Homo sapiens: one gene and its partner. The protein of the gene in region 2 interacts with the protein of the main gene of each other region in a biochemical or structural test. Each region holds a gene or a part of one and is shown on either strand. Other genes may lie near its edges.

Evidence for each region. The genes of interacting proteins can lie anywhere in the genome.
Region 1: the proteins of EPS15L1 (region 2) and SGIP1 form a complex in vitro, tested with the Homo sapiens proteins (one study listed by BioGRID).

The regions. Positions count from the first base shown.
Region 1 is NC_000001.11:66,747,020-66,750,772, reverse strand, and holds part of SGIP1 (SH3-containing GRB2-like protein 3-interacting protein 1), read right to left. Parts: 3' UTR 1-3,753.
Region 2 is NC_000019.10:16,402,317-16,406,069, forward strand, and holds part of EPS15L1 (epidermal growth factor receptor substrate 15-like 1), read right to left. Parts: intron 2,434-3,753; coding exon 2,272-2,433; intron 1,615-2,271; coding exon 1,417-1,614; intron 170-1,416; coding exon 5-169; coding exon of another isoform or gene 1-4.

The DNA of each region.
Region 1 (3,753 bases), on a different chromosome or scaffold from region 2:
TCTTCGCTTCCGTTGTTGGTTTTCTCTTGAGCACAGCATAGAAGCAGTAAAGCTTTCATTACAGACTAAGCAGTAATGGCTGTCAGAAAAAAGTATACTCTTTTGAAATAGACGTGTAGGAAAAAGGCTGGGAATCAACATTTTGACTAAATTTTGAAAGTATCTTGAGTATTTTAATTCACAGTTTTGTAAGTATTTTATGCCCAAGGTATTTTTGTGAAATTATGTACTTAGTACAAGATTAAAAAGAAATTTAGTGTATTTTTGCTACATAGATCAAAGAGAGCTCTAAATAAAGGCTACCACCAAATCAAATTACACACAGCATTTTCCTTAATTGACAGGATTTCATTACCTATAGAAACACAGCAAAATCTTTCTGAGATTCCTAGATTCTTGCATTGTTCAAGTTTAAAAAAAATCAATGCCTTACATGGCCACTTAGTAAGAATGAAAATTAATATCCGAGTATTTAATTCATATGATCTTTTACTATACAAGTGAAAAACAAACAAAAACTCTTTTTAATCGAAAACAATAGTGTTCAAACAGCTTAAAAAGCCAGCTGTATACATTACTGCTTGGCCTGTGGTGAAGCTCTGTTCATAGATAAGATTAATATATCATCATATCAACACTTGGCTTTTTCAAGAAAAATTATTCAGCAGCAATTTTCCAATTCCCCTTAGACAGAGAGGAAAGAGACACACACACACACACACACACACACACACACCCCCACACACACACAGAGAAAGAGAGAGAGAGAGAGAGAGAATATGAATTAGATAGGAGCCAATCTCTTTCATGTATGTCCATTTAACAAAGCAAGAACTAAATTCTGACCTGAAAAATCAACACAGCTATATGAATTATCATTCTAGCAACTTGAAAAGGGAAAAAAATCTGACTTTGGATCTTGGGACAGTGGTTCTTGTGATAGTTACTTGTTGTATGATTTAAAATACCTTAGAGTGATGGTGAATGAATAACATCAAGCATTTACTTTGCGAGAAAAAAAATTCATAAAAGTAATGTAAAACTGAATGAGCGAGATGGAATTAACATTTGTATGATATACTCATTCAATGGAACGTTTAAAAATTATAAATGGCTTATGATCTATCAGGCTGATTCACAAACTCTGGATGGATTAAAAACTGAACTATCTTTAGAGAAATGTAAAGTGATTCAGTTTGATTCTTTTCTATATGATAACAGACAATTTAACCAGGAAGTTTTTAAAGAAACTTCGTTAATTTGGTATAAAAGTAACTGATTGGCAAAGTAAAGCAAAGCAAAAAAAGAAAAAAAAACAGCAAAAAAAAAACCCTATGAAATGCTCATTAAAAGAGTATAGAATCTCACAAAATCTGTGCTAAACAGTGCACTGCTCTTAGCTTTCCCCAAAGTGTTTTTAATATAATTTCTGACAAGCTGATGTAAAAATACTGTCAACATTGATCTATCATGATTCAGTTTCCTAAAGCTGTTTAGTAAAACGTTACTGGAGATTATTCACTGGCATTAATTCCACACGGCAAAGAATTGGAAACATCTTCAACAGATAGGGGTCTGATATGCTGGTCATAGGTGCAAGCCTTAAAAATAATACAAAAATTAAAATAATTTTATTGTTTTGTTTTGAATATTTTAGATGATAAAGTTAAATTCACTAAGAGATACTAATGAAATTTAAAATAGATAACAATTCATTTGAAATGACAGGAATTCTCTTAAAATTAAAACAAAATTCCAGAAGCATTTTTTTCAAAGCATTCCTGGTTATTTTATTTACAATTATTGAAGGATATATAAACTAGTGTTAAAAGAAAACTTTTCCAAAGGTTTCTCAAGGTGTGCTTAGAAAAAATTTTTTTTACCTGATTCAATAACTTTCTTAAGCTTCATTAAAACACTAACATTTATTGTCAATGTCCAAGGAGAGAGAATTATAGTATAGGACCATTTGTTCTCAGACCACAATGAACATCTTCCAGAACACAATTTGTAAAATACTGGAATATTGGTGAGCATAGCCCAAATACACTTTACTTCTTTTCTTTAAAACATTACGGGACATTTAAAAATATATTTGTTTTTTGCCAAAACATTTTTTACAAGGATAAAGATGTATTTAAGGTAGGCAAGGTATTACTCTAGGGATAGAAGGAGGCAGTTAGAAATCAAAGGAAAAATAATTTTAGAAGTTAAACCTAGAGAATAAATTATTATACCCATGGTCAATGCCAACAAATAGGTGTCTTTTCCTCATAGACATACCCATTTAGGAGAGAAATCAGATATTAAATGTGAGGGCCAATCAAGAGGTTCACCATGGTCAACTCAACAGACTTTACATTTGACATTCCTTCATGAAATATATTTAGATCTTAATTAGATGTCAGCAGTGCAACTCTAGCTTGCAGAAGATGACAGAACATTGAAGCAATGACACAAGAGAAAGGCAAGTGTTTTGTTGTTGTTTTTAATATTTAGAGACTTAAGCAATGTACTCCTATCTCATTTTCCTTCCATACACTCCACTGACAAAAAGGAACATTAATGGTAGCCATATTTAATTCATAAGTGAGAGAATGGCATTTAGATACTGTTTTCCACATGAAAAAAAAGCCTAAAGGAGCAGGGAAAATACAATAAAACCTTAAGAGGAAAGTGCACACAGTAAAAGATGGTGAGGCTGGTCATCCAAATAGTCCCTTTAATCAATGTAACTTGGATTGATTTGTTCATTTATATCAACAATCTAATTTGACTCATTGCATGGACACATCATATTATATTAACTTTCAAAGCTATATTTAGAGATCACTCTTGTTTTGATATTATTAAATATAATGTAACACTTCCATTTTTTAAAAAAATTGCTGATCAGAAAACCATGTGGCAAAATGAGTACATTTAGACTGAATGGGATTTTGCTCAAATGTATAATCTTTTGGAAAAGGAAAAGCTTAAACACAGACACATACACACACACTCATCTGTTTAGTATGTATCTGCATATTCTACTGTATTGTTCAATTTAATTTACAGCCTGTGGTTATTTTGAGAAAAAATATTCGTGCAACTCTTTTAGAATGAGGCTACCACATGTTTGTAAAGTCAAAAGCTTACAAAATAAATAGGTTCAACTCACAAGTTAGAGATCTGAATGTCCCTTGCAAAGAAGGAAACATTGATTAGGATTTTGTATTTGAATAAATAACAGCTTGCAACTTCCCTTCTACTTCAAGTCTTTTAAGACATTGAAGAAAAGGACAGAAATATGAAAATGAGAAAATGCATTTCAGGCTACTTTGAGACTGAGATAGTATAACAGAGTAACTTTAAGAAAAAGATAGGGATTTTCCTAGGGAAAAAAATTTTTTAAGATTGGAGGAAATTAAGTGGACTGAATGAAAAATAAACTGACTAGAAAAATGGTTTTCATCTTAGAATTTAATGCTTAAAATCTGATATAATGTCAGAACTAAGAAGGACCTTAGAGATCTACTAGAGCAATGATTCTCAAATTTGGAGCACTTATCAAAATGTATATTCCCAAATCTCATCCCTAGAAGTTTATGCTGTCAATACAAATTTATCGATGCCTACTGTGTATAGCTTGTATGAACTTGATTATACATGTTTCCTTATAATGCCACAAAAGGTGGTATATCTGAGTAAAGTAGAATCATGGAATTTCAGAGATGGAAGACATTGATATGTGGTAGATCATTTTGTGTTGTT
Region 2 (3,753 bases):
TTACCATGGCTCCAAAACTGCCCCTCTCTGCCAGGGAGACGCCTTCGCTCAGGTTGGCCAGGTCGGTCAGGCTGGCACCATGGGCTCCATCGAGCACCTGGTCATACTGCTCCAGGCTCCTGTGGGCCTCCTGGCGGCTTTCATGCAGCTGGGAAAGTTTGCTCCTTGCCTGTGCAACAAAGACATCATCAGCATTAAGCAGGGTCAGGAAAACATGTCAGAAAAGACGCTTTTTTTTTTTAAAACACAGGGTCTCACTCTGTCACCCAGACTGGAATGTAGTGGAGTGATCATAGCTCACTGTAGCCTTGAGCTCCTGACCTCAGGAGCTCCTCCTGCCTCAGCCTCCTGAGTAGCTGGGACTACAGGTGCGTGTCACCACCTATATTTTTGGGCAACAAACCAAGACCCATCTCTGCAAAAAATACAAAAAAAATTCTGTATTTTTTGTAGAGATGGGGTCTCGCTATGTTGTCCAGTCTGGTCTTGAACTCCTGGCCTCAAGTGATCCTCTTGCCTCAGCCTCCTAAAGTGCTGGGATGACAGGTGTAAGGCACTGCACTGCGCAAAGCAACATATCTTTGCTCCTGACACCCAACTACAAACTCTAAGGGTTAGAAGAGAAAACACTGAAAGTAATCCTACAGATATTAACCATAAAGCACAAGAAAGGGTGGTAAATCTCTGAGCGGTCCATGCTTGCGATCAACTGTGGCCTATAAACTGGCTAATGGAGCACAGACAGAGACCAGTTCAATTGGTAAAAGAAGTGTGCCTGGCCACTCCGACACAGGCGAGGGCCAGTGTCACAACCACTGTGTAGACTGGATGCCCAGGGCCAGGACAGAGGCCTTCATCTACTGCCCACAGGAGAGCAGGGAAGGGCAACGGCTGCAGGCCACGAGAAGCCAGCGCCCCCCCCTGGACTGGGAAGAGGGTGGGGGCGTCCCAGGCAGCTTAGAGAATGGGGGTCCTGCATGGCGTGATGCTCCAGGGTGGCGCCTCCTGAACACACCAGTGGCTGTGGAGGATGACGTCTGTTCTCTTGCCCAAGGACAAAGAAGTCATCTCTCTGACTTTGTCCCTCTTGTTTGTGTGAGGACCAGGCTGGAAAGAACCCCAAGTTCTCTCCAAATGAGCCATTAATTAAGTGTTCCCACCCCACCCCGCCTACTCCTTGAAGATGCTGTGTGCTCAGGAAAGGAAAGTGAACTCCTCCAGGCCAATGCCAACAAACTCTGGAACATGCCCTGGGGAGTCCTTGGCCCTGCGCCTCCAGGCCAGCACCACAGCCTCCCAAAAGAGACCCTCACGTAAGTAACAAGGGTGAGAGCAAAGGAGTTCAGCAGTGGCAGCCTCGGCTCTTGGGGCTCGCTGGTCCCTGGCATGTGGCAGGGACCCGACTCCGTGAAGTACCTGGTTGATTTCGTCTTGCGTTGACTTCAGGGACTTGATGATGGTTTCCAGCTGGACTCGCCCAGCCTGAATGCTCTGCTCCAGCTGGGTTTCCTCCTGCTGCAATCGGTTCAGCTCCGACTTGGCTCGGTTCAGATCGTCTTCCTGGGACTTTAAGTCAGATTCCTGAGATTGGATTTGCGTTTTCAGTGATGAGATCTGAAATGAGATGTTAAAAGATGTTAAAGAGATTCACAGTGCAGGATGAAATGGGACTCCGAGAAAGAACTCTTAGCCCCCATCCCCGAAACAAGCTAAGCCAGGGACGCAGACACCTAACCCAGGCCCGACACCTGGCTTCCTTACAGGCCTCTTTCTACACCCAAAATAGAGACACAAATGAAAAGGCAGATGGGCTCATCCCACTGTGGCTAACGGAAGATCACTTTGGAATAATGAGGGGCATGACCAAGCACGAACAATCTGTCCATCCCCCCAGAGGCTGAACGTCATAGAGTTTTCTGAGGTTGCAGCCTCCGGGATCTGTGAGGAGCCTCAGAGACACCTGAGGAGGGGACACAGGCACCCTGGAACTCCCTGTGTTGTGGGGCACAGCCAGGTGGGGTGTGTTCAGGGCACAAGTTCGCAGGGACCAAGGCCATTCACTTATACAACCTGACTTCTAGGAGTACAGGGGGGTGGCCAGGAAGTCAAGCCACAGGTGCTTGGACACTTTTCCACGTGGTGTTTGGAGGAACTCTATTGACCCAGTAGGATGTCTAAGTGTTGTGTTCCCAGGTAACACGAGCTCAGGGGAGTCCTTGGGAAGCCCCTGCCTGTGCATAGGGCGCTGCCCCGGAGGTGGCCGGGACCCACCATCTGAGTCTCATCCTGGCACTTCTGCCGGACGTCGCTCAGCATGTCTCGGAGCTTGGCCTTCTGCTGGTCCATCTCGTCCAGGCGGTCTTGAGCATCCTGTTTCTGAGCCTCGAGCTCCTGCAAACTGCTTGTTTCCCGGTCTAGGTCATTTTGTAATTCCTAGGGAGGAGTTGCAGGGGTTTACGTGAGGATGGGAAAAATGAAGCATGTCCAAGATAACGGGGGGCAGCCTGGGCCAGAAGTCCAGGGGAAGCCTCCGAAACCACCCACTGTGACCGTGCTCAGGGCCAGCATTCCGTGCACACCCACGGCCAATGTGTGCCTCTTGGGCTGGAGGCCCAGGGCCACTGTCTCACCAGCTCCCTCAGCAGGTATTTCCCGATGGCCTAACAGAGGCCAGGTGCGAGAGAAGGGGCTGGGTCCCTGTGAGAAAAAGGCCCCAGCTCCCGGATGACATGCAGCTGTGGCTGCGGAGGGGAACATCACCCAAACGCAAATAAACGTGGACAAGTGGCACCAAGGGGGTCACAGGGAAACTACAGTCACACCTTGTGGGCAGGGAAGATGCCCACAAAAGCAGCATTTAGGATGGGGCCAACAGGTGAGCAGGTGCCAGGCAGGTGAAGAGCCAGGGACAGAGCCTGGCGGAGGGAACCACAGGGACCCCAGGGTCGGGGGGTGTCGCACTCCAGCTAGAGCAAAAGGGAATGGGTGGAGGCATCAGAGGCTGCACCCCACAGGCCACGCCAAGGAGACTGCGCTGGGCTCTGTGGTGGGGAGCCCGGTGGGATGTGTGAGTGTGGGAGGCGGGACATCATGATTCTGTTTCTGAAGCTCTCTCTGACCCCGTGGGATGGATCCAGATGGTCAGCCCGAGGCTCCAATGCCCCATGATTCCACTTCCAAGAAAAGCATCCTGGAAGCATACAGCGTGTGCAGAGGTATACAACGTCTATGACAGCAAAATCCGTAAACAATGCAGATGTCCATGAGGTGCTGGCTGGAAGGTTCCAGCACAGCCCACACTGTGGGACGCTCCTTGGCCATGGAACGGGATGGCGCCGTGTGCTTTGCCTTACAGTGGGACATGAGCACACTGCATTTGTGCGAACGGGAAGGGGAGGGTATGTGTGGTATGCATCAACCTTTCTGGAAGGCCCCCTCCAGGAGCTCATGAACAGCACCTCCGGGGATGGGGACACCCAAGAAGAGGGCAGAGGCTTCTCACCTCCTGATTTTCAACCACGCAAATGCATTATCTGTCTTTAAGATAAATAACCAAAGCTGAAATAGCACAACGGGCATTGTGACAAGCCTCCTCCCTCCAGCTGCCATGTGGAGCGTGGTGCAAGGGGCCATCAGGACGCAGGAACTGCAGGGGCCTCGGGTGGGGTCCAGGGAGAGGCAGCAGCAGCTGGGGCCTGAGTGAGGTGGTGGTCGTGAGAATGGAGAGGAGGGGTGGGTTTGCGGGGAGCCATG